Homo sapiens: one gene and its partners. The protein of the gene in region 6 purifies or fractionates together with the protein of the main gene of each other region. This does not show direct contact. Each region holds a gene or a part of one and is shown on either strand. Other genes may lie near its edges.

Region 1 (4,013 bases), on a different chromosome or scaffold from region 6:
AGGTGGGGGAAGCAACATAGGAGCAGAAACAGTTCCTTTCTAAGTCTGACTTATAAAATAGGAACAATAAAGACAACAGTTTATTGAACAGGATGGTTTATTGAGCTGTCCAGCACTATAAGCAAATGGCTTACAAACATTTTCCTACTCTTTTTGATGCTTGAGAGAGATACTTTGATAGAAGATTATTCCAAAATATAATTACTTGGTCATTTAGTTCTCTCTTTATTATCATAGGAAACTATGGGGAATTTTTTTTTCTTTAGATTGCAAACTAGTTTTAAAAAGAGCTTGTAATGAACAATTTAATTAGATTGGTTTTGGCTTGCCTAAAAGCTTAAGAAGGTATTAATATTCTAATCAAAAGTCTTGGGAAAGCATTCTTAGAATAAAAAAAGGAAAGAAAATCTTCATTCTTATGCTTTAAGAACCAGGAAAGCTGTCAAAGGATATAAGGTAACTCTTACAAAAGCAATTGTAAAATAAACGTGGTTTGGCCACAATGAGCCAACACCTATGTTTGCCACAGACTTAGATTCCCACCTCACTCATGGCAAATTTATTCAGCTGCTTAAGATTATTTTTTACTCATACTTCGAAAGAACAACAGCCTGGAATTTTTAGACTTTTAATGGCAATGGAAGGAACTTACCTATGATAAACATTTTTCTTTACTCTCACGCTTTCTTAACCCATGGCTGTTCTGAGTCAATGTTTGCCTTGCATTCAAAAAATAATAGTAAAGATTCAAGTAAAACATATTCATTAAGCACTATTTGAAAGATATACCAAGTGCTTTAACATTATCTCACTTTATTCCTACAAAGATCATGTGCAATAAATATCACTGTTCATGTTTCCTACAGATGAAAAAAAACTGAGGGTCATGTTCAGAGAAATTGGATGACTTACCCAGAGCCACACAGATTTGTACGTGGCAAAGGAGGATTCCATTTCAAGTCTTTCAACCCCAAATTCATCTTCCTTTCTCTAAGGGGAAATGGTGCTATGGAATTCATGTAAGCCACAGAGCTTGGATAAAAGGAATAGTAAGACCAAAAATAGGAAAAGTAGGAAGAGGTGGATCCTCCTATGTTTTTAATCAGGGTTCTATCTACCTGTAACTCTTCTGGGAAAAGAAGCAGGATGTGACTGAAACATAGCTGCTTTCTAGATCTCACAAATCTGGCTTTTCTAGTCAATCACATCTCTCTCTCCTTCGGCTTCTCACCAAACCAGCATCCGTTCAGCTTCAAAGAAAAAAGAGCCCTACTGTTTCCCACTCATTTATCATCAATCTAAAGTAACTGCCAATCACAAAAGTCCCATCTTTATTTCTTTCCTTAGAAACAAATTTCTCTAGGGAAGCTTATCAGTAGCAGAAGTGCAGACTGGGAAATGGCCTATGTCACCCTCCCATCTAGAAATGCCCAGTGCACATCCAGATCCCACACCCCCAAGAGCGTTGTGCAATATCTGTTAATTTATGAGAGCTGTTTCCCATAGATGATGCTGCAGGCATTAGTAAGGAGGGCAAAGTTCAAGTGATGACACCATCTCTACTCCACCTGGCTGGTTTCCAGGTGCCATCTCCTGATCCCTCTCCCCACCCCCACTGCCCTCTCACCATCCTTCCCCCAAACCCCACACTCCCCACCAATCTGGGTCAGTGATAAACACAGAGTATTCCACATGCCTCTGATATGATGTAACATTCGACACACTAAAGATAATACTGCCTTTAAGGCTCCTGTCCCCCTGGCTAGACTTAAACTGTGTAGAGGAGGAGAACTGTGACTTTATTCCCCTTGCATCCTGGACACCCACACATGGTAGGTGTTCAGTGAATATGTGATGAGTTGGTGAATACCCACTGAATGTGCTATTTGCATTGCTACTTCCTTGTGCTTCCTTCCACTGTTTCTATCGCCTAAAATTCTTCTCCCTTTTTCCTCCACCCTCGAGTAGGAAAAAATTTGTTTCTTTATTGGGCAGGGAGTTCTGGTCATTATACATTTATGTAAAATGTTCTTCTAATTGGCATATTCCATGCTATGTCCAGATTCTTTCAAGCGAATTCTCATTAAGGTAATAATACCTCACCGAAGTTTCCAGGGATGATCCCCTAGCTGTTCAAAGCTACCTTTTATATATTAAATACCAGTCAATATGAATCAATGGTAACTGAAAAAAAGGCTGATAGCTTGTGAAGGAGTTGGAGTACAAAACTATGCCTATAAATTGATCCTCACAAAGGCAGACTTTTTCCCACAGAAATTGTATTATGAATGCTAGTTATAGTTTGAGACTAGTTAATAAAATTCTACTCACTCCAAACATAGGATTAATGGAACCCACATGAGTTGTGTGCTGTCAAAGTCGAGTCAAGAGGAGAGAGAAGGAGAAGAAAATTTCCTCCCTGTTCTCATAGCTCAGGGCACCCAAGGGATTCTAGAGCGTAAAGTGTACTCCCTTCTATTTTTTACTGCCCTTATTCCCAAGCTGAACCAAATATTTACCTCTGCCCTCATTTTCAGTTATGGAGTTCACTCAGGCCCTTTTCAACCTTCGAGGTTCCTTAACCTTTACATTATTAATTCTTTTTCTAAGCAAAATCCAGCTGATCTCTACTAGATGGTTAAAAGGATAGTAAATAGGTAAATTAATCCACATTAAGCCACAAATGACTGCTAGCCCTAACCCTTTAATGACTAATTAATTTTTAATAAAGAATATGTGTCTATATAAATGAATTTATACTTCTAAGTTGGCATAAGTTCAGAAAAAATAGTAAGATGAACTGGAAAATCTACAAGGTATAGGGAAATCCTCTGGGTGAGGAAGAACTAGTCATACCTCCCTAAAAGCCTAGCCCTAGTTTCTGTTACATTATTTCTTCTTTTCATCTTCTGTTTTCTAAACCACAAGTTTCTAAAAGCACCAAGGAATTTTCTACCTGTTTATTTCGTTTTGTTTTTGTTTCTGTTTTTTTGTCCAAGGTGAGGCCCAAGTTGACACTGAGTATTCTCTGTGAAACTCTGCAAGGAGCAACATGTGATTTCACAGAAATTAGTCTCGATACACTATATTCATGGCTGTAAGTTCTATGCTGCTCACCCATTCATTTGTCCATTCAGTCACTCATTCATGAGACATTTATCATCTGCCTCCTGGAACATACCAGGGCCTACACCAGAAAACAAGGAAACAAGTAAACACTAGTAAACTTTAAACAGGCTCTCCCCACAAGCAACTGACAGACCAGTGGAGAAGACAGATATGTCAACAGATGATTACAATAAAGTTTCAAGGCCGGGTGCGGTGGCTCACGCCTGTAATTCCAACATTTTGGGAGGCCAAGGCGGGTGGATCACCCGAAGTCAGGAGTTCAAGAGCAGCCTGGCCAACATGGCAAAACCCCGTCTCTACTAAAAATAAAAAAATTAGCTGGGCATGATGGTACACACTGGTAGTCCCAGCTACTAGGGAAGCTGAGGCATGAGAATCACTTGAACCTGGGAGGTAGAGATCGCAGTGAGCCAAGATCGCACCACTGCACTCCAGCCTGGGCAATACAGTGACACTCTGTCTCAGAAAAAAAAAAAAAAAGTGTCAAACCTACATCCAAAATGTCAAAGTGCTCAAAAAAGTTGGGAAGGCTTCACCAAAGATGTGACATTTAGGGTAGATAACACCTGTTTGTGGATACTAATGTCCTGGTGAGTCAAAGAAGAAAAGGATGTACATTATATAAGCTGGATGCAAAAAGGAACAATAATGAGGACATGCAACCAAAAACTTACATAGGGAGAACAACTTTACTTACTCAGGGAAGGCAAAGAGACCACTTAAGAACTCCTTCACATGTGTTATGTCTTAAAAGCTGACTACTGGAGTTGTATCCCTTGCACAGCATCCCTTTGCACCAAAGTGAACACTACTCTAAGAACATGTGTTCAGCTCTCCTGAATGCCAAGCACAACCATGCTTGGCATGGCAGTGGTGTCTTATTT
Region 2 (4,013 bases), on a different chromosome or scaffold from region 6:
TCAATACAAACAATACTTTTCTAGCCTATCCAAATTCTACCCCTCTTTCAAATTCTTTCTTGAGTCTTTCTTCATGAAAACTTTCCAGTAATTTCTGCATTCATTGGGCTAATTGTACACACCGCTCATTCAACAGATAATCACATGACATTTCTTATAGTTTGGAGCTATATGGTGATTACACTTCTCACTGTTGTTGTCCCCCGCAGCTAGTCTCTTTCAAGGTCAGAGACTATGTTCAATGGCTGTGTAGCCCCCACAGTGCTCTCTACCATGCCTTACATAGAGTAGATGGCCAATAAGTGTTGCTGAATTAAAACATTCTAGATGTACTTAAAATTTAACAATCTTGACCCACAGAATCATAGGATGGTAGATCTGGAAAGGGCTTTGGAGACTATCTCCCTCCTTGTGTGGGGTGAGGAAACCAGGCCCACAGAAGTGAGTTTCCTTTATCAAGATGAGTTGACCAGCCAACGTCTCTATACTGACTCAGGGCTTTTTCTTCTAATTTCGACATTTTATCTCATTGTTCATTGTTACCCTTTGGCTATGGAATCCTGAAGATATTCAAACACACATGCTTTAGTAAAGTGTACATAGTACCAAATACTAGGCCAGCATATTCCAGATTCTTGCGAGCTAGTGTGTGTGTTACCCAGTGGCATCTAGGCTCTTTGGGTCTCCCAAGCTTATGCTCCTAGAAAATGAAGGCATCTTTGCAGAGAACTGATGGTATTGCAGCATGGCATTTCTGGTAGCCTTGCAGGAACAGGGAAGCCTATCAGGAGCTTTGTGAGTTAACAAGGGATCATCACTGCTGTGGCCACTCCTGGTCCCTGCTGCCAAGATGAGGATGGCTTGGAGAAAAATCAAGCAATGTGTGCTCTGTACATTGTTACTTAGTGACTTATCCTGATGAAAGGGGCAGTGTGGGCTGGGCGCAGTGGCTCATGCCTGTAATCCCAGCACTTTGGGATGCTGAGGCAGGTGGATCACTTGAGGTCAGGAGTTCGAGACCAGCCGGGCCAACATGGTGAAACCCTGTCTCTACTAAAAGTACAAAAAGTCAGCTGGGCTTGGTGGTGCACACCTGTATTCCCAGCTACTTGGGAGGCTGAGGCAGGAGAATCACTTGAACTTGGGAGGCGGAGGTTGCAGTGAGCCGAGATTGTGCCATTGCACTCCAGCCTGGGCAACAAAACAAGAACAAAACTCCATCTAAATAAATAAATAAATAAATAAAATAGAAAAAAGAAAGAGGAGGTGTGTCTGGCAGACAGGTGAAATAGAAAAAGCAGACCTGATAATATGAACTTACTAGGTTTGAGGAGACACAAGACTATGTAGACCAAAGCCAAACTTTGACATACCAGAATGTTAGTGCCCACAGTGACAAGGTCCAGGTTCCTGAAGAGCATCCTTATGTGAGATTGGGAAGAGGAAAAAGTGACTATATTGTGCTCTGTAACCAAGAGTGCATTCTCTGGGGAATGACTCTATGGAGGTCAGTCTTGGCTTTATCTAGCTTCGGATTCTGTCTGTGACTTGACTAACCAAATGAGTTTTAGAAAGGCATAGTTGCCTCTTTGGTATCAATCTGTTACAGTACTTAGCTAAACTTAACTTCCTGATGAAGTATGTTCCTTGAGAGAGAGTTCTTCCCAAGAGTTCCTTGGGTTGTATCTCCTGAACAGTTTGCTTTCTTTTTCTTTTCTTTTTCTTTTTTTTTCTTTGAGACGGAGTTTCATTCTTGTTGCCCAGGCTGGAGTGCAATGGCACAATCTCGGCTCACTGCAACCTCCGCCTCCCGGGTTCAAGCGATTCTCCTGCCTCAGCCTCCTGAGTAGCTGGGATTACAGGCATGCGCCACCACGCCTTGCTAATTTTGTATTTTTTAGTAGAGACAGAGTTTCTCCGTGTTGGCCAGGCTGGTCTCGAACTCCTGACTTCAGGTGATCCGCCCGCCTCTGCCTCCCAAAGTGCTGGGATTACAGGCGTGAGCTACTGCACCTGGCGGCAGTTTGCTTTCTTTTAATAATTCTTTTTTTTCCTCTTTTTTTTTTTTTTTTTGAGATAGGGTCTCCCTCTCTTGCCTAGGCTGGAGTGCAGTGGTGTGATCTTGGCTCACTGCATCCTCTGCCTCCTGGGCTTAAACAGTCCTCCCACCTCAGCCTCCCAAGTATCTGGGACTACAGGAGTGAGCCACTATGCCTGACTAAGTTTTGTATTTTTTGTAGAGACAGGATCTCACCATCTTGCCCAGGCTGGTCTTGAACTCCTGAGCTCAAGTGATCCAACAGCCTTGGCCTCCCAAAGTGCTGGGATTACAGGTGTAAGCCACCATGCCTGGCTCCTTTAATAATTCTTTATGGTTCTGTCATTCAGAATTTCTCTACATTTTCAGCCTCTATTTCCTTTTGTGGTAATGAGTTTCACATTTTCAGTCTCCACTGAATGCCTCTCCCATCTTTTGAGGATGAGTCTTAATTAAATATAGTGATCCTCTGTTTTGGGAAAAGCAAGCCCAGAGAACAGGGATGTTCCCCAACATGCTGACATCAGTTGAGATGTTATTGAGGGAAAGAAGAGACTCCTAAATCTTTCTCCTCAGAGATGCTGGTGCTGGTATTGTGCTTAAGAACAAAGGAGGTACCTTAGGCTATTTGCAGTAGCAAGAAGCTAGCTAATTCAGGGTAATTAATTAGTGGGATGTTTCTGGAATGGAGTGGGGAAGACAGGGCCCCTATGATGATGATTAGATAAGGCCAGTTAATGGAGAGCCTTGGAATACTGACCTGTGGAGTTTGGGGCATAATATAATAGGCAGCAGTGAATGGTTCTAAGTTCTCGAGCAGGGGTATATTGTAACTGAAATTTGAACTTTGTTATTATAACTGAAATTTGGAAACTACTGAGCGGGTTTACCTGGATAGAGATTTTGATGAGAGGATGGCTTCTCACTTCAGAATTGAAAGTGTCCCTGTTTGGTTAATTTTCTTTATTGCTACTGGAGCAAAAGAGGGTTGTGCATTTTTCTCTGACCTTCACATAGAAGTAAATCTGGAGGCTGATTGTAAATTATGTTTTTAGTGTTAAGGGAAACTTCCCCTCTCAGCAGACTCTGAGGGTCATCAGAAGAATCTTGAAACAGTCTTAATGGGTGGTTCTACATGTTTATTGTCTTCTAGAGGTAGTGTCTTAGTCTGTTCTGGCTGCTGTAAGAAACTACCATCGACTGGGTGGCTTATAAACAACAGAAATTTGTGTCTCATAGTTCTGGAGGCTGGCAAGTACAAGATCAAGATGCCTGCAGGTTTGGTGACTGATGAAGGCCTGCTTTCTGGTTCATAGATGGCTGTCTTCTCTCCCTTGCCAAAGGGGCAAGGGAGCTTGCCAGGATTTCTTTTATAAGGATGCTAATCCCATTCATGAGGGTGGAGCCTTAGGTGACCTAATCACCCCCCAAAGGCCCCACCTCCAAAATCCATCACATTGGATGTTAAGATTTCAACATATGAATTTTGCAGGGATACAGACATTCAGTAAGTAGCAGGTAGGTAGTAAGAGGACAGATGGCCATCCATATCAGGGAGGTATTATAGCAAAGGCTTATTTCTCCCATGTGTGACCAAAGAGTATCATGGGGCTCTGATCCTTGGGCCTTCTTCCTTAAAGCCATACTTACCAGCTGCTACTGGAGCAGTTTCAAGCAGCCAGCAGCTCCCCTACAGAGCTCTTCCCTGACCACTTACAGCCCTTAGAGGCTGAGTCACCATTCTAACACTTGATTATCGGTCATCTTATTCTTTAGCTGTTTCATATTTCAGTTATGTTTTCCCCAACAAAATTAACTCCTATTTCCCTTGTTCTTCATTTGTTAGTCCAACAAGTACTTGTTGGCTGACTGATTACATTGATAAAAGAACAAACAAACCAAAAAACATAGCAAGAAAGCTGTTAGGGAGACTTAGAAGCAGTGTATTGTACAGAACACCAATCCAAGCTGCCAA
Region 3 (4,013 bases), on a different chromosome or scaffold from region 6:
CACAGCTGGCCAAACTAGATGATTTTAGTTTGTAGAATATTTGGAGCATTTAACACATCAGGAAAATAGATCTTTACTAGTAACAGTGTTATAGGTTATGTTTATGTTTTAGGATCACTTTTAAGTTCTTCCCTTAACATTTTCTTTTTTTTTGTTTTGTTTTGTTTTGTTTTTGAGACAGGGTCTTGCTCTGTCACCCAGGCTGGAGTGCAGAGTGCAATCACAGTGCACTGCAGCCTCTGCCTCCTGGGCTCAAGCGATCCTCCCACCCCAGACTCCAGAGTAGCTGGGCCTAGAGGCACACGCCACCTCAGCTAGTTTTTGTACTTTGTGGAGAGACAGGGTTTCGCTTTGTTGCCCAGACTGGTCTTGAACTCCTAGGCTCGAGAGATCCACCTGTCTCAGCCTCCCAAAGTGCTGGGATTATAGGCATGAGCCACCACACCCAGCCTTCCCTTAAAATTTCCTAAATTGACTACATTTGGATAACAAGAAAAAAAGAATTTATGAAATTTGAGTTTATTATAAGCATTGTTCCTACCATGAATATAAAAGTGTGCACTAGCACAGCTAAGGAAGGAAATGTTTTGGTTAGTTTCCTCTTTGGGTTTTAAGAATTCTATTCTAAAAATGTTAGCCTAAATATACCAATTTAAGTAACAGTTAATATTTTCCTGACTCTAAGAACAGTATGTGACTCTTGCAGAGAATATGGAAAACAGAAACGTTGACCAGGTGTGGTGGCTCATGCCTGTAATCCCAGCACTTTGGGAGGCCAAGGCGGGTGGATCACTTGAGGCCAGGAGTTTGAGACCAGCCTGACCAACATGATGAAACCCCATCTCTACACAAAAATACAAAAAATAAAAATTAGCTGGGTGTGGTGGCACATGCCTGTAATCCCAGCTATCAGGGAGGCTGGGGCACAAGGATCGCTTGAACCTGGGTGGCAGAGGTTGCAGTGAGCTGAGATCGCGCCACTGCATTCCAGCGTGGGTGACAGAGGGAGACTCTGTCTCCAAAAAAAAAAGTATAGGAAAACGGAAGTTGCTCTACAAATTATTAATTTTCAAATAGTTACAGAAATTGCATAAATTATTAAATCCTGAAATTAACCTATTAATATTTCTTCGGGAATTCAGAAGACACTTGATAATCCTGCATTTATTTACTAAGGAAACACTTACTGAGCACTCACGGTGTTGGGGAGAAGAGGGGACCAAATGAGGGAAAAGCCATGTAAGCCCTTAAAGAACTCAAATTCTAGAAGCAGCCACATGAACAAGTAATTGCAATACTTGTGTGTGATGGAAAGGACCTCTGCCCTGACTTTAAAATCTGATCCCCTCTCCCCAACATACCACCTAGTTTTTCATTTCTCAAAGAATAACAAATCTATTACTATCTGTTTAAATCAGAGTGGATTATTTAAAAAAATAGAATGGAGCAAATTCTGCAGGCCAGGGGAGACACTAGACTTCTCCACCCATGCCATAATGACAGCTTGACGGGGATGTGACAGCTGTGGTCCAGGCAGGTGGTATAAACTTGTGGGCTTCTACATACTGACTTTGCTTTCCTTTAGATTAGTTCGCTGGTCTTTAAATTTCCGTGGGCCTGAGAATTACTGCACTATATACATCAAACCACATATATTCTACTTTTTCGTAGATTTTAAGCTATCTCTCTATAGCAATGTACCCCATATGTTGATTTAAAAACCAAATTTCTGAGTAAAATGTGACACCAGCATATTCCCAGGGAGTGCTGCAAAAATCAGAACAGGAGGAGTTTAGGAAGACTGACGTGGATGTTGGAAGAAAAACTGTTTCCTAGATACAGAGGGCAAGGCATCGAGGGGAAAGAATCGCGTGCGCAAGAGCACCACTGGGAAAGGGGAAGGAAGAGCAGTTCAGATTTGCCAAGCCCAGGGAGAGGGGCAAAACGGCAAGAGATAAAGGTAGATGCACTGTTTGGAGCCCGACTGTGTTGTCGACTGTGCTGAAAGCCTGGACTTGAGCCTGTACACATGGACAAATTATAGGAATTTTAAATAACAGAAGACATACTCAGATTTGTTTTTAGAGATTGTTCTTGTTTCAGCGTGGAAGAGGAATGGGAGAAGAGGGAAGGTCAACTTAGAATGTCGGTAAATCCAGAGGAGAGATGATAAGGGCCCCGGGCAGAGGCAATGCCTAAATGTTGCCGATTGGCCAGGCTGGCAGGCGCCCTTATTTCACAGATACATGTTATTAAAGCCCTTTGAGCCAAAGTCATTCCACCTAAAACGTAGACTACTCTGTGGAGGTGTTTTGAGGATAAACAATAATAAGCATCATTAAAGTGTCCAGTAAGGGGTCAAGTACCAGGAGGTACTAAAGGGTTAGTTTCACTTTCTTTAATGTCAATTATTATTGAATCTGTAAATGAGTTTCTGGTATATAAATCTCTGAAGGTAAGTTCATTATGTTTTCAGAAAAAGTTTTAGTTATTATTTCTGCATTTTTTCAGGTCACATGGAAAATATATTTCACATTGCTTATAAGTAAATATATTCTCAGTTTCAGTGTTCCAAATTAGAATATAAGATGAATTTTACCTACCCTGATTATGACCTATTGCTATTTAATATAAAATTCAAAACATTGTTTATCTTTAACGTTCATAAACATTATTACCAGCTCTGAATTAAAAAAAAAAAACTTTCATATTGTTTCAGTCCACATCTTTATGTGAAGAATTAGAGCACGCCATTGATATATGTGTAAAACTAACGGCTTACTACAAACTAGGGCAAAAGACTTGGCTGTAGAAAGCACAAACCATTAAGTTAATAAGCAAAATTGGAAGGGAGAGGGATTTAAATGATATTTATAACTGACAGAAATAACACAAGTATTTTGACTTGAGGAATTTGCTGAAGTAATTATTCTGTTGTTTGGAATATAGGTAAATTTTTTTTTTTTTTTAGAGACAAGGTCTTTCTCTGTTGCCCAGGCTGGAGTGTAGTGGTGTGATCACAGCTCATTACAACCTTGAACTCCTGGGCTCAAGCAATCCACCCACCTTGGCCTCCCAAACTGGGATTACAGGTGTGAGCCAACACGCCTGGCCCAATACCTGATTTTTTAGATCTTTTTTTCCCTTCTTCTTAAGAGATGAGGTCTTGGTCTGTTGCCAAGGCTGCAGTGCAGTGGCTATGCACAGGTGTCATCACAGTGTACTACAGCCTCGAACTCTTGGGCTTAAACAATCCTCCTGCCTCAGCCTCCCAAGTAGCTGGGACAACAGCCATGAGCCACCACACCTGGCCTTAGACCAACTTTTTTTTAAAAAGTAAAAACAGCCAAAACCAGAGAGCTACATAGTCATGTACATGGTCAGGACATATTATCTTTTTTGGCTATCGGAAAGCTCAAAATCAAATTAAAATTAAAAAACAAAACAAAATCAAGTGACAACGTATAATAACCAAAGTATCATCATTTTATTTCTTTCTCTCCTAAGTTGTTGACCCTGTCATCTTCATATTTTATTATATTCATTTTTATAATGCCTTTTTCTTTTGTACATGAGATAAGATATGAGTAAATAAACCTAAAATAGGAGACAGCCACAGACACATCTTTGTAACAGGCCTCAGAACTGGAACACTCCCACACCTTCTTAGACAGGCTTTTTTTTTTTTAAGACAAGGTCTTGCTCTGCTGCCCAGGCTGGAGTGCAGTGGCGCAATCTCAGCTCACTGCAGTCTCCCCCACCTCTGGGGCTCAAGTGATCCTCCTGCCTCAGGCTCCTGGCAGCTGGAACTACAAACACATGCCACCATGCGTGGCTAATTTTTGTATTTTTTTGTAGAGATGGGGTTTCGCCATTTGCCCAGGCTGATCTTGAACTCCTGAGCTCAAGCAATCTGCCCTCCTCTGCCTCTCAAAATGGTGGGATTACAAGCATGAGCCACTGCACTCAGACAGGTATTTTTTAAAAATTTAAATTCCTCAGGTGTTAACTTT
Region 4 (4,498 bases), on a different chromosome or scaffold from region 6:
TGAAGTCATGATGTGTGGTAATTGTCTATGGAGAGGGGTCATAGAAAGCCAGGCTCTGGGGCTTGGACCAGCTTCACCGTGCGCTATAGCAGCTTCCCCTCCCGGCTGGTGTGCAGGGTGGGGCTGGAGGTATAGTTTATGACCAGCCTCTGTGGATGCCCCAGCCCAGGCCCTGGTTCTGTTGGAAGGAGGCTCTCAGATCGAGGGTCGCATAGACAGGGTCTGCTCTAGGTCTGCCAGGATCGGCCTTTCCAGCAGGATGGGTCCCTGGCATACCCACCCCAGGACCTGGAATCTTCTTGTTCCTGGTTCTTAGCCATCTAATTTTTGTTCTATTTGGACCTTTCATTGATGAGAATTAGCAGCCCGTCCCCACCCCCCAGCCCCTGCCTTAAAGAAGTGGACATTTTAAGCGGCTCGAGTTGGTCTTCGAGTTCAAGAGGACAAATGGAATACAGAATGACGAACCTGGCTTATGGCCAGGAGCCCCCAGTTCCTTTTTTTTTTTTTTTTCTGGCAAGTTTGTGTAACCAAAAGGCCCCAGTTCTTAGCTCAACATGAGAGTGTAAAACCCAGCGTTCAAGGAATGTGAACCAATACCTGGTATGGGCAAGGACAAGGAGGAGAATAGGAAGCAGAAGGAATAGAAGGACCCAGACTAACTCCAGAGGAAAATGGTGAGCTAAGACCTTTACTGCATCACAAATCAATAAATACTTATTGAGAAGCTGCTACATGCAAGATTCTCCTGCCTGTACCACTACGCCCGAGGTTTTTGTACTGTGACACTGAGGGACAGTCTGCCAAGCTGCTCACGGCCCTTCAGTGAGTGGGTGGGGGCGGAGGAGAGGGTCTGTGTTCTGAGGGGACATTGGCCCTGGAGACAGGGTGTGTAGGAGATTCGTGAAGGGGGAACGAGGCACTGGTGGCTGGCTGAAGAGCTCCAGAGCCCAGATGGTCCTAGGACTCCTGGGCTCCTGGCTAGACCCTGAGTGAGGGATCCAGATATTGGAATGCCTGGCTGAGGATCACTCATTTGAGGTGTGACATGAAGAAAGTCACTGGGTCCCTTTCCCCCAGATGTAGGTTTTCTTGGGACATGCCCTGCTGCCCCTGCCCCCTGCCCCCACCTGTCCCTAGTAGGTCACTCAGTGAGGTGAGGCGTGCAGTTAGGGGAAACTCTTAAGGTTTCTCAGAAGCTGGGACCCGCCGGGTCTCCAGTTGGTTACTAAGATGTCCAACTGGGTCAGGGCTCGTGGTCAGTTTGAAGCTGCAGGCAGAGGAAGACGCCCAGTAACCTAATCAGGCGAGGCCAGCGGCTGTGACCGGGGGCCAGGGTGGGAGCACATTGCCCCTTTGGGGCCGCGGGTTTTTAGTCTGATTTGGGGTATTGCCCAGACTCTGTGATTAGACTCAGGGCAGCTTCATGGGCTTGCAACTGGGGCAGTCACACGGGGGCCTGCACCCAGCAGGACCCCCCACGAGGTTTAGTGCTCTGCTGTTGCCTTCTTATTTATAATAATTTTTCAACAAGGGGCCCCATGTTTTCATTTTGCATTGGGTCCCACAAATTATGTAGCAGGTCCTGGTTAGATGAATGGTCCGGCTCTGATTCCACCTACGGTTTGGATCCGAGGGGCCAGGCTTTGGGTAGTCAGCCCTTCTGCCCACTTTCTCCCCGTGTCCTACTTACACTTCCCAGCCTTGGGATCTGGGCAAGCGAGAGGCGGGCTTCTCTGAGCAAGTCTGGGAACATGGTTGGTGGAACTACAAAGTCCACTCCACAAAGTCCACTCCAGCCGGGGGAGCAGGAGGGAGTCAGACAATATCTTAGGGTAAGTTTGGGACAGGAGAGTTGGTAGGAGCCAGGGTTTGGCTCCTTCATGATCTAACCCAGAGTGCAGCCCCGAAACAAGTCCTCTCTCCAGGGGGAGAAAAGACAGTGAAGAAGTTTCCAAGAAACCCTTACAACCAGCCTCTGCCGTCGGCTCACAAGGAACCCTGTGTTTCTCTGGTTGAGCTGCTCCACACACACACACATCTTCTGGGAGCCCAGTGACAACCAAGTCAACTGCACCACTACGCTTCACTGGAGAGACTTGAGTGGTGGCAGCGTAGTGCTGGAGACCATTTTCTTAGCCCACCCAAGAAACCTTTCCAAGAATACCTTATCTCTAGAGATTCTACAACAGGTTCCAAGACATTTGTCAGATTAACAGTTTTCTCACCCTGCTCCCTGACTCCAGCCTGCTGGGATCCTCTTCCTTGCTACCATCTGGTCTCACATTCCCTCAGTTTAGCACATAATTGTTGCCTAATAGCTTCCAGTGAGTGATTTTTTTCTCTGGCCAGAGCAGAAGCTATTTGAGGGCAAAGACCAGGTCCTCAACTTCTCCACCCAACACAGAATGTAGTGCCCTGATGACATAATCATATGGCCAGAGACGAACAGCTATGCATTCATTGACTGATTAGCAATGCCAGCCTCCTTACGGTAAGAAAACCTCCAAAGTACTTTCCTGTCTAGTTCCATATTCCGACCCTAAGAGAAAAGGAGAGAAAGAATGGAGAGGTGAAGTATCCTGTTCCCAGTCACATAGCAACTCAGAGGAGGATGCAGGGCCTGAACCCGTGTCTTCCAGCTTCCTCTAAAGGATGTCTCCTAAGGACAGCAGCTCTCCTTATCTGCTTCTTCCACAGAATGGAAAATAAACTCTTAAAGGGCGGGAGCTGACTGACCTGTCTAGATTTTACAGATCCACAGTGGGAGAGGATTCCCACACTGTCCCCTCTCCCTCGGACTCTGGCAAAGGATGTTAGAATTCCAGACAGGGCCTCGGCGACAGGAAGCTACCCGTGTCTACTCACCAGGTCCTCCAGGTTCTCGAGGTCCATTTCCAGCGTTAGCGGGTAGTTCATGGCTGTGCCGGCTGTGAGTCACCAGACTGGTCACTGTCTTATGTTGAGAGGCTCCCCGCCAGGTGCCTCTAGAGAGGTGGCAGCCGTCAGCTGCAAATTTAAGCAAATGAGCTGCGCATCGTCTCCTGAGGCAGTAGGGCCGCGACCTGCCTCACAACTCATCACTTTTTTTTTTTTTTCCACTGGGTCTTTTCTGTTTTTTTGAAGAAAGAGGGAAAATCCCCCACAGCATCAGTGCTAGTCAAGCATTTCAGCTTCTTTCCCGGCAATAATTGTCTCAACTGGGGCCTATGACTAGTTTAAAGGCTGCCCTCACTTCTCCTCCCTATACCCCCAATAAGGGGCTCACAACTTGTAATGAAACCACCACGCAAAGTCAGCAGGTTGATGAGGGAAACTCCTGATCAACAGAGAACAGGAGAAGAGCTCTCCCAGCAACCTCTCCTCCAAGCCACCTCCAAACCTTCATTTTCCTCACCACTAGGGTGATCAACCATTCCAGTCTGCCAAGGACTGAAAAGTCCCTTGACTTGGGAAACCCCTAAGTCCTGGCAAGTTAGGGCACTTGGTCACACTACTTGCCACCATCCTTTTGCCCAACAGAGGCAAAACCCCTTCCCTTCTCAGCTCAAGTTCAGAAAAGATAGGTTAGAATTTTTCAAAGGGAACAACAGTAAAACAATACTGGAAGACAAAAATGAAATCAACTTTGGAAGGCCGAGGCAGGAGGATGGCTTGAGGCCAGGAGTTGGATACCAGCCTGGGCAACATAGCAAGACCATGTCTCTAAAAGAAAAAAAAAAAGTGAAATCACCAAGAAAAGCACATAGTTACAGAGTCATTTTCTGACTCAAAAATAATGATGTTCTATCTATAAATTAACTTTGTTTGCTCATAAATTATTAACCTCATAAACTACCAAGCTAGAGATGGCTTCAGAGATCATCCAGTCTAACCCTCAATTTTTATTCAGGAGGTCCGTGAGGCCGAGAGGGAGAGCAACTTACCCGAGATCCCACAGCTAACCAGTGGCAGAGCTGGGACTTGAACTCAGGTCTTTTGACTCCACCTTTAGTGTTTTCTCTACTCCAGGCTGCCACTCTTGCAGGCACTCATAACCTCTGTCCTTTCCCTCAACTCTGTCCTGTCTGAGGGCCGCTTCCTTTAAGAAGCCGTTTTGTAGATGTTGATCAATTTCCCTTCCAAGTCTCATTTTGTGGCTTTTTCTTCCAGAAGTGGGCATTTCCTCTCTTGATCCACAATGATGTGAGAAAGATGACTGCACGCACAGAGGCACCCACACATGGTGGCTGCTTCTTGGCCCCACCCCCACCCTTGTTATCACGCTCCCTTTCAGCCAAATCGCCCTTTGCTGGGATCCTACTACCCTTTCCAGTGCCCTCCTTCACCCTCTCCTCCATATTCACCTTCCCTCTTTCCCCTCTTCACACCTTGCTTACTGAAGATGCTTACCCCACTGCATCCCCAACAGATGCATCATTCTTTTTTTTTTTTTTTTTTTTTTTTTTTGAGACAGAGTTTTGCACTTCTTGCCCAGGCTGGAGTGCAATGGCATGAT
Region 5 (4,013 bases), on a different chromosome or scaffold from region 6:
ATCCTCTTTGGAACCAGTAATTCTGTTTCTGGGAATGTATTCTAAAGAAGTGTTCAAAAGTATGTTTGCCTAAAGTATCTTTGTATATAAAGCCCATTACTTGTAAATAACAAAAGGCTGAAAGCAATCCAAAACCCAATGTTAGGGACTAGTTGAATGCACTGTGGTCTTTCCATTGGCCAAAATATTAGGCAGTTACTAAAAATAAGCCTGATGAAACATATAGAAGTTATGTATTTTAAGTGGAAAAAACATTAGGCAATAAAATTTTATAATTAGTTCATGACAGTTATTTAAAAACTGGCTTATGTGTAAAAAGGATGATTGGACACCATGAATCACTTTATTCTTTCTTTCTTTACTGGTTTCATATTCTAAAATACTTTGAATTTGCATTTTATATGATTTTAATAGGGAATAGTGAACTTTCAGGAAAATGTTTATTGTTATTCAGCACTACACTAGGTTATTACAGATTTCTAAAAAGTTAGTAAGTCTTGTTCATTTTAAAAAATAAATCTAGCTGAACTAATACACCGCTCTCAGGAAAAATTGTTTGATTCTTTACATTCAGATTTCATAGTCACAATTTTATTGAAATTGTACTTGTTTAATGGGTTACTTTAGTTACATAGGATAGACTAGGTAATAAGCTAAAGCCTCATAAAATGAGTGGTCAGAAATTTATGTTTAAAAGCCGTTACAGATGGATTTTTTTATTTTGGCTGAACAAGAGCCATTTCTTCCATTTATGTCAATCATTTGTTTATTGTTCCCTTTATGGAACCCAGGAAGTGAACACTTAAAAACATTTTTACGGAAGATGTTGTATGTAGTATATATTCATCTATAGTAAACTATGAAAGCTTGTTAATCTAAAAATAGAATAATAAAGCCTAGAAAAGTTTGCCTGAAACATTACTCTGTACCAGGTCTCTGGTATGTAACTTTAATATTTCTATTACCATATCTATTACTGAACAAGTTTAAATGTTAATCTTGTTTCTAGTTTGCCATGTATTGTCTCCTGCTCTTTTATAAAGTACTAAAAGAAGAACTGAGCCCAATCCAACCTGTTGGCAAATTTCTTTGTGTAAAGCTGGTGGTTTTTGTTTCTTTTTGGTAAGTGTTACTTTTTTTTAAATGTTCTCATTTTTTTAAGGGCAGTAAAAACCGTTGATTAAGGAGGATTTTTAAACAGTCTTAATGCGGAAGATAGATTAAAATGTCTCTACTTCTCTTTTTAAAAGTTCATCTTTTTAGCCCTTCTACAATTTTCAAAAGAAATAATTAGATGGTCGCTGTAACATTTATATGAAGAAAATAGTTTGAGACAACCTAAATATGTCAATACTAGAATAATTATTAAAATAAATCATGGCCCTGTCATATAATAGAATACTATGGAGTTTGGAAGAAAGCATGATGTAGAATATTTAATTATATGGGAAAATAATCAGTAAATCTTTTTAAAACAGAAGGTAAAACTATACATAGTTCAATATAGTAAAGAGGGCCGGGCACAGTGGCTCACGCCTGTAATCCCAGCACTTTGGGAGGCCAAGACAGGTGGATCACCTGAGGTTGGGAGTTCCAGACTAGCCTGGCCAACATGGCTAGTCTCTACTAAAAATACAAAAATCAGCCAGGCATGGTAGCAGGCACCTGTAATCCAAGCTACTTGGCAGGGAAGGCAGGAGAATTACCTGAACCCAGAAGGCAGAGGTTGCGGTGAGCCAAAATCATGCCACTGCACTCCAGCCTGGGCACCAGAGTGAAACTCTGTCTCAAAAAAAAAAAAAAAAAGAATTTAGTAAAGAGGTGGGTAATAGGGGTCCTAGAAACAAATACACCAAATTTAACAAGCTAGAAACAATACAAAAAGGGAAAAAGAAAAATCCCTGAAATCCCACCACCCAGAAAAGAATGATTAACATCTTGGTAAACCTGTGTCACATATAAAACTCCAGAGAAAGTTTCATACTATAAAAATTTTTGGAATTCGACAATGTTCAGTAGTATATTGTAGATACAGTTCTTTGTCAGTAAACAGAAATATTATTTTGTTTTGTGGAGGGGGTGATTTTTATTTTTATTTTTATTTTGCTTAGTATTCTGTTATGTGGATATAACTTTTTACTAATCTCCTTTTGATATTCAGGTTGTTCCTAATTTTTTTACCATTATAAGAAACACTGAAGTGAATATTCTTATGTATACAACTATGAAAGCATGTCCATGTCATTATTTGCTGTTTAAATTTTACCTGGGGCCATTATCTCTAGATTTGCTTGAAATGCTCAGCTTGACTCCCTATCTTGAGACAAAACTACTAGAAAAATGAATTTGTAAAGCAAATTAATATATTTAACATAGAGTTTCTTCAGCAATATGCTGTAAAGGCAGGGTGGTGGTGGTACACAGGTTGCACTGGATTTTTTTTTAATGGCACATTTTTAAAACTACTGCTCATTTTATGCTTGATATAGATTTGGCGTTTACCTTTTCCTAACATATAGGCAAGCAGTAGTTATTGCTTTGTTGGTAAAAGTTGGCGTTATTTCTGAAAAGCATACGTGGGAATGGCAAACTGTAGAAGCTGTGGCCACCGGACTCCAGGTAAGTAGTGCCATCTCTGAATTCAATAGAACTTTACTATTTGTTAAGCATTTTTACATATCTCCACTAAACCTGACAACACACAGGGTATGGGGCTATTATCCTCACTTTACAGGTGAGAAAACAGGGGAACCCTAGAGAAATTGGCCATAATTACTAATTTGTAGCAGATCCATGAATAAAACCTGGATTTCATTATTCCTAAGTCCAATTCTCTTTCCACATTTCTCCTTGTAGTCCTTGGGTGGTGGAATGCAATATACTTGATGTGATTGAGAATGAAATGTACTTTGCTAAGAAATACTTGAGGCTGGCCTGGTGCAGTGACTCACGCCTGTAATCCTAGCACTTTGTAAGGCCAACGTTGGGGGATCACTGGACCAGGCATTCGAGATCAGCCTGGGCAACAAAGAGAGACCTCATCTCTACAAAAAACTAAAAAATAAAATACTTAGCCAGGCATGACAGCACATGCCTATACTCCTAGTTACTTGGGAGGCTGAAGTGGGAGGATTGCTTGAATGCAGGAGTTCAAGGCTGCTACTTGAGGAAGTGCAAAATAGATTCACATTTTGGCATTTTGTCTTTTTTTGAAGGGGTCAAAAATAATTATTTTAGAAAATGGAAAAATGAATATAATCTGAGAAGAAAAAACACAGCTGTTTATCTTAGCACTTTTGAAAAGCAAGTAGAGAAAGATAGCACTCTACAAACCTAGATTTAAATCCAAAGGTGGCTGTTATCTTATTGTTGTTCTCATAGGATTTTATTATCTGTATTGAGATGTTCCTCGCTGCCATTGCTCATCATTACACATTCTCATATAAACCATATGTCCAAGAAGCAGAAGAGGGCTCATGCTTTGATTCCTTTCTTGCCATGTGGGATGTCTCAGATATTAGAGATGATATTTCTGAACAAGTAAGGCATGTTGGTAAGTACCAGCTATTTAATTCAACCAAATAGGTTGGGTAGGATATTGAATTTCTCCTACTAGGGCAATTTATTATCTATTTAGAGATGAAAAAAGACTTTAAAGCAGTACCACAGTGCAGGCTCATCAACTTTGGGGAGTGGGAGAGGGGGAAGTGGGGAGCTTATTTTTAGAATGGTAAGTTTATAATGGTAAAAATAACTTTTGACTAACAGAAAACTTTATATTAAAGGACGGACAGTCAGGGGACATCCCAGGAAAAAATTGTTTCCCGAGGATCAAGATCAAAATGAACATACAAGTTTATTATCATCATCATCACAAGATGCAATTTCCATTGCTTCTTCTATGCCACCTTCACCCATGGGTCACTACCAAGGGTTTGGACACACTGTGACTCCCCAGACTACACCTACCACAGCTAAGATATCTGATGAAATCCTTAGTGATACTATAGGAG
Region 6 (4,013 bases):
ATACCAAGCAATAAGAAACTTTTTTTTTTCCTTGAGACAGAGTTTCACTGTGTTGCCCAGGCTGGAGTGCAGTGCCATGATCTTGGCTCACTGCAACCTCCACCTCCTGGGTTCAAGCGAAATCTCCTGCCTCAGCCTCGTGGGTAGCTGGGACTACAGGCGTGCACCACCATGCCCAGCTAATTTTTGTATTTTTAGAAGAGAAGAGACAGGGTTTTGCCATGTTGACCAGGCTGGTCTTCAACTCCTGGCCTCAAGGGATCCGCCCACCTTGGCCTCCCAAAGTGCTGAGATTACAGGCGTGAGCCACCACACCCAGCAGGTTTTTTTCTATCATCAATATTCTTGTTACCTACTAGTAGGGATAAAGAGATCTTGCAGAACTCTATTGAGGGCTTGACCACCATTTCTAACAAAATGCACCCTGAGCTTCAGACAGCTGACTTGAATTATTCTCAAACCAACCTTTTTATAAATTGGAGATTACTCCAATAAACTTATATCTGATAATGCCAGAAGATGGGAGGAAAGAATTATAAAAACAAATAGACTATCCTCATTTGTACAATTTAAAAAAGTAATGTTGAATTTTTGATGTAGGTGCCCAGAATTCAATTTTTTTAATGACTAAGAGGGCTGGCATCATATTTAATAGATAAAAAGTACAATTAAAAACAATATGTAAAGTATATATACAAGCAAATATATATATAATTAATGTTCCATCTTTTTCAATGTACTATTAACTCCAGAGAAGTAATAAAAACTATTCAAAACCAGAAAGTAACAGATTACCAGAGCTGGAGAAGTCTCTCATTTCATAAAAAGAACATTATATTTCTGGCTTCTGAATGAACTTCTGTATGATTTTGTACTTACTCTATTTGGGAAGGAAGGGACTATACCTTTTTTTTTTCTTTTTTATTTACCCTACAGAATATAAGAACTAGATCCAAGTTCACTGAAGTGTACTTGAAAAGTGTTATGTTTTTAAGCATAAATTGTTATCTGAATAAACATACACTACAAAGAACTCATTACAGCCATCACAGCAGGAGCAGAATTCCACAGTCTCTATGAACAATCTTGCAATTCAAGTCCATGTGGAAAGGGTAATTTCCTTTCTTGAAGAGAAATACAGAAATGGCATTCATTATGATTAAGACCTTGTAAGTATAGAAATGTGGAAGTGTGAAATTTATAATACTATAAACATGCTTATTACAAAAACATCACTGCAGAGTGGGCCTCAATTTTTTCAGTGTTTGCTCATCTTACAAGGGCTTGGAGTTTCACGTAATGACTGCTGCGCTGGCTTTGTAATAACAAAATCAATGTCTTTTTTCTTTTTCTGTGGCCAAGTTTCCTCTGTGCATTATATGTATACTGGGGTAAGGTAACAGTAAAAAAAAAAAAAAAAAAAAAAAAAAGTCTTCAGATTTCAGAATATTCACAATGGGCACATGCTGGAAGGAAAATGCTTGTAGTGGTGGGGAATCTGGGGAAATTATTGGAGAAAGGAGGTACGTGAAGAGATTAGGAAGATGGTGCAGAGATCAAAAAACAGCACTGCAAGCACTGATCACAAACTAAGTCTTTTATTGCGGAAAAATCAGCAACTGTGAAGTGTGGCTAGGTATGCTGCATCTGAGAAGTTTGAATGAACCCCTCAGAAGGGTTCACCTCCGTGGGCACCATGCTCTATCTGTTCTGCATCCTCCCTTATGCAAGCACATCATGAAAACGTGCCAGCCCACAAGATGGGGTGTTGTGTATGGTGTGGCAATTTCTCACACGCTGATTCTTACCAAGTTCCAAGAAAAATTAAGAAGAACCTCGAGTGTGTGTGTGTGTGTGGCAGGCAAGCGTGTTTAGATCTAAGCCAGATGTTTCATGCCTACTGTATTCAGGTAGATGTGTTTGAAGCTTGAGGTGGGAAAGCAAGTTAACTACCCACACAGTCACTTCCTTCCATAGTTTTCTGAGCAACACTGAGAAGTGCAGTCTCAGGCATTGATGATTTGTTTCCGGGCTAGTGCAAATTAAAAGGAGTGAAAGAGAAAACACTGTTTAGACTGAGAAAGTGTTTTTCAAAGAACAGCAAAGCACAAAGGAAAATGTACTTGAAGAGAGGATATGAACACAATGCTAACAAAAGGTACCATTTCTAACATCTGGTGACATCCACAAATGTTTATATTTTCAATTCACCAACCTTCAGGATCTTACATGTATTTGAGAAGGGAACTTCAATTCATTTAACATGTAACATTTCCCTTTCATGAGCCAGGACTGTACCACATTCCATGTGGGATGAAAAGATGACTAAACCTCCATCCCTGATGTGTTTGTATCATCATAGAAAGCTATGAAGCTAAATTTAATCTTGGTTTTTAAAGTAATTACTTTTCTGAGGAAGCTTTTAGTAAGTACAAAAACACTGTGGAATGATATCCATCCTGGATATCATATGTTGACAATGTAATTTTAAAAATAGTCTCTTCTCTTGTTGTTATATCACCTCTATGGTAGATACTTTTGGGTTTCTGCTATGTGATATATGTATGATTCCATTCAATTCTTTCTTGCCCAGGGATAAACTGAGTAGCTAAATAAATTTGTCTGAGGCAACACAGACAGTGAGTGGCAAAGTGGAACTTTTCAGAGCTTGTGCTCTTAACTATCTAGACCACGGCTTGGCAAACTTTCTCTGTAAAGGGCCACAGAGTAATTGAGGCTTTGCAAACAATTCTATCTCTGTCACAATTATCCAATTCTGCTGTTATGGTGTGAAAGCAGCCATAGACAGTGTATAATGAATGGGTGTGGCTATGTCTCAATAAAACTTTATTCATAAAACCAGGTGGTGGGCCATAAGGGAGAGATGTGATTATCTTGCCAAATAAATAAACTTTTTTTTTTTTTTTTTTGAGACAGGGTCTCCCATCACCCAGGCAGGAGTATAGTGGCAGGATCATGGCTCATTGCAGTCTTGACCTCTTGCCAACTCCTGCCTCATTTTTTATAGATAGAGGTCTCGTTACATTGCCCAGGCTGGGCTTGAACTCCTGTGCTCAAGTGATCCTCTCACCTCAGTCTCCCAAAGTGCTGGGATTACAGGTGTGAATCACCACACCTGGCCACATAGACTCTTATAGGGCAGCAGTCGTGACTCTCACTTGTTTTACATAGTGGCTACATGTGGATGCATTTTGTTACCAATCACCAAGTGTTCAAGTGTTTCTCAGAATGGGTTGGGTGTCTAGTTGTCCAGGATTTCACAGTCTAGTTGGGGAGGGTAAGATCCTTTTCTAAGAACAAAGCAAATAATGCAGAGCCATAGGAGTAGTGAAGTGGATGCTATAGATTCTAAGTGCTGCACAAAGAGCTTAACACTGGGTTACTATTAGTAATGGTGGTGGGACTTCATTGGGCTATGAAGTTTCAAAAAAGGAAGTATTTCCTGAGTATTCATAAGTGTCCTACGTGTCAGGCATCATGCTAAACGTACACATATGTTATATACTACAGTGCACAAAACAATCCTATGAGTTTGGTCGTAAGGCCCAGAAAAATCAAGTGACTTGATGGTAGTTCTACAAATAGGAAGTGTCAGAACTGGGATCTCAACCTTGATAGACTGATTTCAGTGGTGGGCTCTTAACTTCAAAATTGTGTTCCTCCCCAGAGAGAGGAGAGGCAGAGGTGGACGGTAACCAAATGAAAGGGAGACACAGAGGGGACTATAAGAGTTAATACACAATTGGTCAAAACTACTGGATTGTTCCTTTTTCTGATCTGCTATTTCAAAGCAGATGAGTTTCTTTTCTTTTTTTTTTAGACAGAGTCTTGCTCTGTTGCCAGGCTGGAGTGCAGTGGCGCGATCTTGGCTCACTGCAACCTCCGCCTCCCGGGTTCAAGCAATTCTCCTGCCTCAGCCTCCCGAGAAGCTGGGACTACAGGTGCCTGCCACCACGCCCAGCTAATTTTTATATTTTTAGTAGAAACGGGGT
Region 7 (4,013 bases), on a different chromosome or scaffold from region 6:
GAGACTACTGATGTTGCCTAAACTACACGTTTAGCAACTAAAACTATGCTTTCTCTTGTAATTTCTTATTTGATCTTTTTTTTTTTTTTGAGACAAGGTTTCTCCCTGTCACCGAGGCTGGAGTGCAGTGGTGTGACCATAGCCGTGGCTCACAGTAGCCTTGAACTCTTGGACTCAACTGATCCTCCTGCCTTGCCCTCCCAATTAGCTGGGACTATAGGTGAAACCATGCCCAGCTAATTTTTTTTAATTTGGGTTTTGTTTTTTTTTTTTTTTAGGGACGGGGTCTCACTGTGTTGTCCAGGCTGGTCTCGAACTCCTGTGCTCAAGTGATCCTCTGACCTTGGCCTCCCAAAGTGTTGGGATTACAGGCATGAAACACCATGCCCAGTCTCTCTTTGGTTCCTTTTAAACGTGAGTTATTGTGAAAGTCTGTTCTACACTGTGAATTGTATCACATTAAGAAACAAGACACTATTGGCAGAAGACTGTGCCAGTCTTTGCTTCATACTCTTAACTGATGAATGAGTGCTGAGATGGGAGGAATCCTGCTAAAGAAATGGAAAATAGGCTGAGCACGGTAGCTCACACCTGTAATCCCAGCACTTTGGGAAGCCAAGGCAGGTGGATCACCTGAGGTCAGGAATTCAAGACCAGCCTGACCAGCTTGGTGAAACCCTGTCTCTACTAAAAATACAAAAATTAGCTAGGCCTGCTGGTGGGCGCCTGTAATCCCATTTAGTCAGGAGTCTGAAGCAGGAGAATCACTCGAACCCAGGAAGCAGAGGTTGCAGTGAGCTGAGATTGTGCCATTGCACTCCAGCCTGGGTGATGAGAGTGAAACTCAGTCTTGAAAAAAAAAGAAACTAAGTTAAACATTTTAAACTTCAAAAAAGTTGATCTCTTACTTGTGTCTTTGTTAAAATCAGTGACTAAAATGCACTTTGTATATCTATGGCATGTGAGTTGTTTTTTTTTTTCACTTTGGCATTTGACTTGAAACTGTCTTATCAACCTTGGCATTGTGATTGATAGCATGGCTTTTGGGGTCAGATGAATTAAGTCAGAATCCATTTCTGCCATTTATTTGCAGCATGACCTAGTACAAATTACTTAAGCTCATTTGCTTCAGTTTTCTCATCTGTAAAGTGGGAATAGTAGTATCTATCTAGCAGTGTTGCAAGGATTAAAAAATATGTTAAGCGCTTGGCACGGTGCCTGGGAATGGCATGTTCTAAGTGGTAGCTGTTAAGAATGCTCTCTTCTCACTCCTTCGTCCTTGTCACCTGGTTTTTGCCTCTATCACCCTAGTGAAAGGGGTTTTGCTTACATCACTATTGATGTCTCGATTGCAAAATTATATGGATGCTTTTCTGCCTTTTCTCATTTGATGGGATTGACTCTTAAAAAAATTTTTTTTTTCCTTTTTATTTTCATTTTTTGAGATAGGGTTTAACTCTGTCTCCCAGGCTAGAGTGCAGTGGTGCCATCACAGCTCACTGTAGCCTCAAACTCCTGGGTTCCGGTGATCCCTCCACCTCAGCCTCCCAAGTAGCTGGGACTACAGGTGTGCACCACCACACCCAGCTAAATTTTGTATTCTTTGTAGACACAGGGTCTTCTTGTGTTTTCCAGGCTGGTCTCGAATTCCTGGGCTCAAGTGATCGGCTGGCCTCAGCCTCCCAGAGTGCTAGAATTATGGGCAGGAGCCATTGTGCCCTGCCAGATTGACTTCTTTATGCAAACCTATATCATTTATTGGACCGAAGTAGAACTTAATGGTTAATGCATGGGCTCTGGAGGCCAACTGGATTTGAATCCAGGTTCACTTCCCGTGTGATCATGGGCACATTAGCTGACTTCTATATGCCTTAATTTCCGTATCTGTAAAATAGAGATGTTTTAGGGATCATACACAATAGGTGCAAAACTCTTAGAGCAGTGCCTCTCTCAAAAAGTAGGCAATGACGGTAGACGTTATTATTGTTAAGCACCTTCCTGGTGTCAGGCACTGTCCAAGGTAGGAGGAATGCAGAAACAATATCATGGAAATGAGAGACAAATTTTTTTTTTTTTTTTTTTTTTTTTTTTGATACAGACTCTTGCTCTCGTGCCCAGGCTGGAGTTCAGTGGCTTGATTTTGGCTCACTGCAACCTCCGCCTCCCGGGTTCAAGCGATTCTCCTGTCTCAGCTTCCTGAGTAGCTGGCATTATAGGCGTGCACCGCCATGCCCAGCTAATTTTTGTATTTTTATTAGAGATGGGGTTTCATGTTGGCCAGGATGCTCTCAAACTCCTGGCCTCAGGTGATCCACCTGCCTCGGCCTCCCAAAATGCTGGCATTACATCTGTGAGCACCCGGCTCAGACAACAATTTAATTTGGCTGAGGGTGCAGGGAGGCAGTGTCAGTGGGGATGGAGTGAGAGCTGCCCTTGAGAGACACTTAAAATGTGGAAACGATAGGACTTGGTAACTGGTTGTAGGAGAGCCAGAGTGTCAAGGATGACTGGCAGGAGCTGGGCGCAGTGGCTCACGTCTGTAATCCCAGCATTTGGGAGGCTGACGCGGGAGGATCGCTTGAGCCCAGGAGTTTGAGACCAGCCTGGGCAACATGGCAAAATCCCATCTCTACAAAAAATACAAAAATTAGCCAGGAGTGGTAGCATGCACTTGTAGTCCCAGCTACTTGGGAGGCCAAGGTGGGAGGATCGCTTGCGCCCAGGAAGTCAAGGCGGCTGCCATGCTCATACCACTGCACTCTAGCCTGGGCACCAGAGCCAGACCCTGTCTCAAAAAAAAGAATGACTGGCAGGGATCACTAGGTAAATGACGGTGTTTTTCCTTAGGGAAGGAGCCAGTTTGGTGCCTTGGGATAAGTTTTGGCCTTGATGGCCTTTGGGTCATCTAAGGAGATAGCTCCAGTAGGTGACTGTTTGGATCTGGAGGTGAGTAGGTACATAAAATGGGATTAAGGCATGAATGAGCGTGTCCCCCTTGAGCAGAGGCCCCAGCTGGAACTTGGGAACACCAGCTTTTGAAGGATCCTGAGAAGGAAGGGGTGGCCAGATGAATGTTAAGAAAACCCGGAGTGGAAACTGGGAGAGGATCCACCCCACTTCTGTATCAGATGCTGCAGCAACATGAGTTAGGGACTGGAGCTCCAGCTTTGGACTTAGCAGCCCAGAGATTACTGGAGACCTTGAAGTTCTCCTGTGTCTTCGTTGCTTCTCACTTGTCTCTCTGAAGGTTCATTCTGCCTGCACTGCTTTGCGGTGGGGCAGGAAGATGGTTTCTGCGCAGTGCTTGGGGCAGCTGGGTGCTGGAGCTTGCACAGGGTTTCTTTGATACCAGTAAGTGTCTTCAGCTCTAAGTGTTGGATAATCTGGCATCGCATCGATGACTGTTGTTTACTAGGCTCAGGGTTTGTAACCCCGGCCTTAAAGCTCTTTGAGGGTCTCAGACATCACAGGATATTTGAGAAATGCTACTTTCTGCTACATGAAGGTGAGTTTCTGTCATTCTGTCTTAGCACAAGTCCGATGTATTTCCTTTGGTTGGCGTAGAGAGCAGGCTTGCTTCTCCCATCCTCTCTTCCTCAACTTTCAGAAACTTCCCATTTAACCTAAGGTAGAAAATCTCATTTAAGATGAATGGTGGGCCTGGTGTGGTGGTTTGTGCCTGGAATCCCAGCACTTTGGGAGGCTGAGGCAGGTGGATCACTTGAAGTCAGGAGTTTGAGACCAGCCTGGCCAACATGGTGAAACCCCATCTCTACTAAAAATATCAAAATTAGCCGGACGTGGTGATGTGCACCTGTAGTCTCAGCTATTTGGGAGGCTGAGGTAGGAGAATCGCTTGAACCTGGGAGGCAGAGGTTGAGCAGAGATCACACTGCTGCATGCCAGCCTGGGTGACAGTGCGAGACAATATCTCAAAAAAAAAAAAAAAAAAAAAAAAGAACAGTTTAAAACTACAATAAAGTTAGTTTAAAACTTGGACAAGTAGCCATGTG

The links.
Region 1: the proteins of GNAQ (region 6) and AGTR1 purify together in Homo sapiens (co-immunoprecipitation; one study listed by IntAct). This does not show direct contact.
Region 2: the proteins of GNAQ (region 6) and ZDHHC9 fractionate together in Homo sapiens (co-fractionation; one large-scale study listed by BioGRID). This does not show direct contact.
Region 3: the proteins of GNAQ (region 6) and PI4K2B fractionate together in Homo sapiens (co-fractionation; one large-scale study listed by BioGRID). This does not show direct contact.
Region 4: the proteins of GNAQ (region 6) and CXCR5 purify together in Homo sapiens (co-immunoprecipitation; one study listed by IntAct). This does not show direct contact.
Region 5: the proteins of GNAQ (region 6) and TMEM184C fractionate together in Homo sapiens (co-fractionation; one large-scale study listed by BioGRID). This does not show direct contact.
Region 7: the proteins of GNAQ (region 6) and TMEM248 fractionate together in Homo sapiens (co-fractionation; one large-scale study listed by BioGRID). This does not show direct contact.

What each region holds. Positions count from the first base shown.
Region 1 is NC_000003.12:148,735,767-148,739,779, forward strand, and holds part of AGTR1 (type-1 angiotensin II receptor), read left to right. Parts: intron 1-4,013. UniProt on the Homo sapiens protein: Receptor for angiotensin II, a vasoconstricting peptide, which acts as a key regulator of blood pressure and sodium retention by the kidney.
Region 2 is NC_000023.11:129,833,507-129,837,519, reverse strand, and holds part of ZDHHC9 (palmitoyltransferase ZDHHC9), read left to right. Parts: intron 1-4,013. UniProt on the Homo sapiens protein: Palmitoyltransferase that catalyzes the addition of palmitate onto various protein substrates, such as ADRB2, GSDMD, HRAS, NRAS and CGAS. The ZDHHC9-GOLGA7 complex is a palmitoyltransferase specific for HRAS and NRAS.
Region 3 is NC_000004.12:25,271,820-25,275,832, reverse strand, and holds part of PI4K2B (phosphatidylinositol 4-kinase type 2-beta), read right to left. Parts: intron 1-4,013. UniProt on the Homo sapiens protein: Together with PI4K2A and the type III PI4Ks (PIK4CA and PIK4CB) it contributes to the overall PI4-kinase activity of the cell. This contribution may be especially significant in plasma membrane, endosomal and Golgi compartments.
Region 4 is NC_000011.10:118,882,363-118,886,860, reverse strand, and holds the start of CXCR5 (C-X-C chemokine receptor type 5), read right to left. Parts: upstream 2,970-4,498; 5' UTR 2,920-2,969; coding exon 2,869-2,919; intron 735-2,868; exon of another isoform or gene 1-734. UniProt on the Homo sapiens protein: Cytokine receptor that binds to B-lymphocyte chemoattractant (BLC). Involved in B-cell migration into B-cell follicles of spleen and Peyer patches but not into those of mesenteric or peripheral lymph nodes.
Region 5 is NC_000004.12:147,630,384-147,634,396, forward strand, and holds part of TMEM184C (transmembrane protein 184C), read left to right. Parts: intron 1-1,009; coding exon 1,010-1,122; intron 1,123-2,489; coding exon of another isoform or gene 2,490-2,490; exon of another isoform or gene 2,491-2,519; coding exon 2,520-2,619; intron 2,620-3,381; coding exon 3,382-3,553; intron 3,554-3,785; coding exon 3,786-4,013. UniProt on the Homo sapiens protein: Possible tumor suppressor which may play a role in cell growth.
Region 6 is NC_000009.12:77,724,176-77,728,188, forward strand, and holds part of GNAQ (guanine nucleotide-binding protein G(q) subunit alpha), read right to left. Parts: intron 1-4,013.
Region 7 is NC_000007.14:66,927,364-66,931,376, forward strand, and holds part of TMEM248 (transmembrane protein 248), read left to right. Parts: intron 1-396; exon of another isoform or gene 397-414; intron 415-3,251; exon of another isoform or gene 3,252-3,499; coding exon of another isoform or gene 3,500-3,505; intron 3,506-4,013.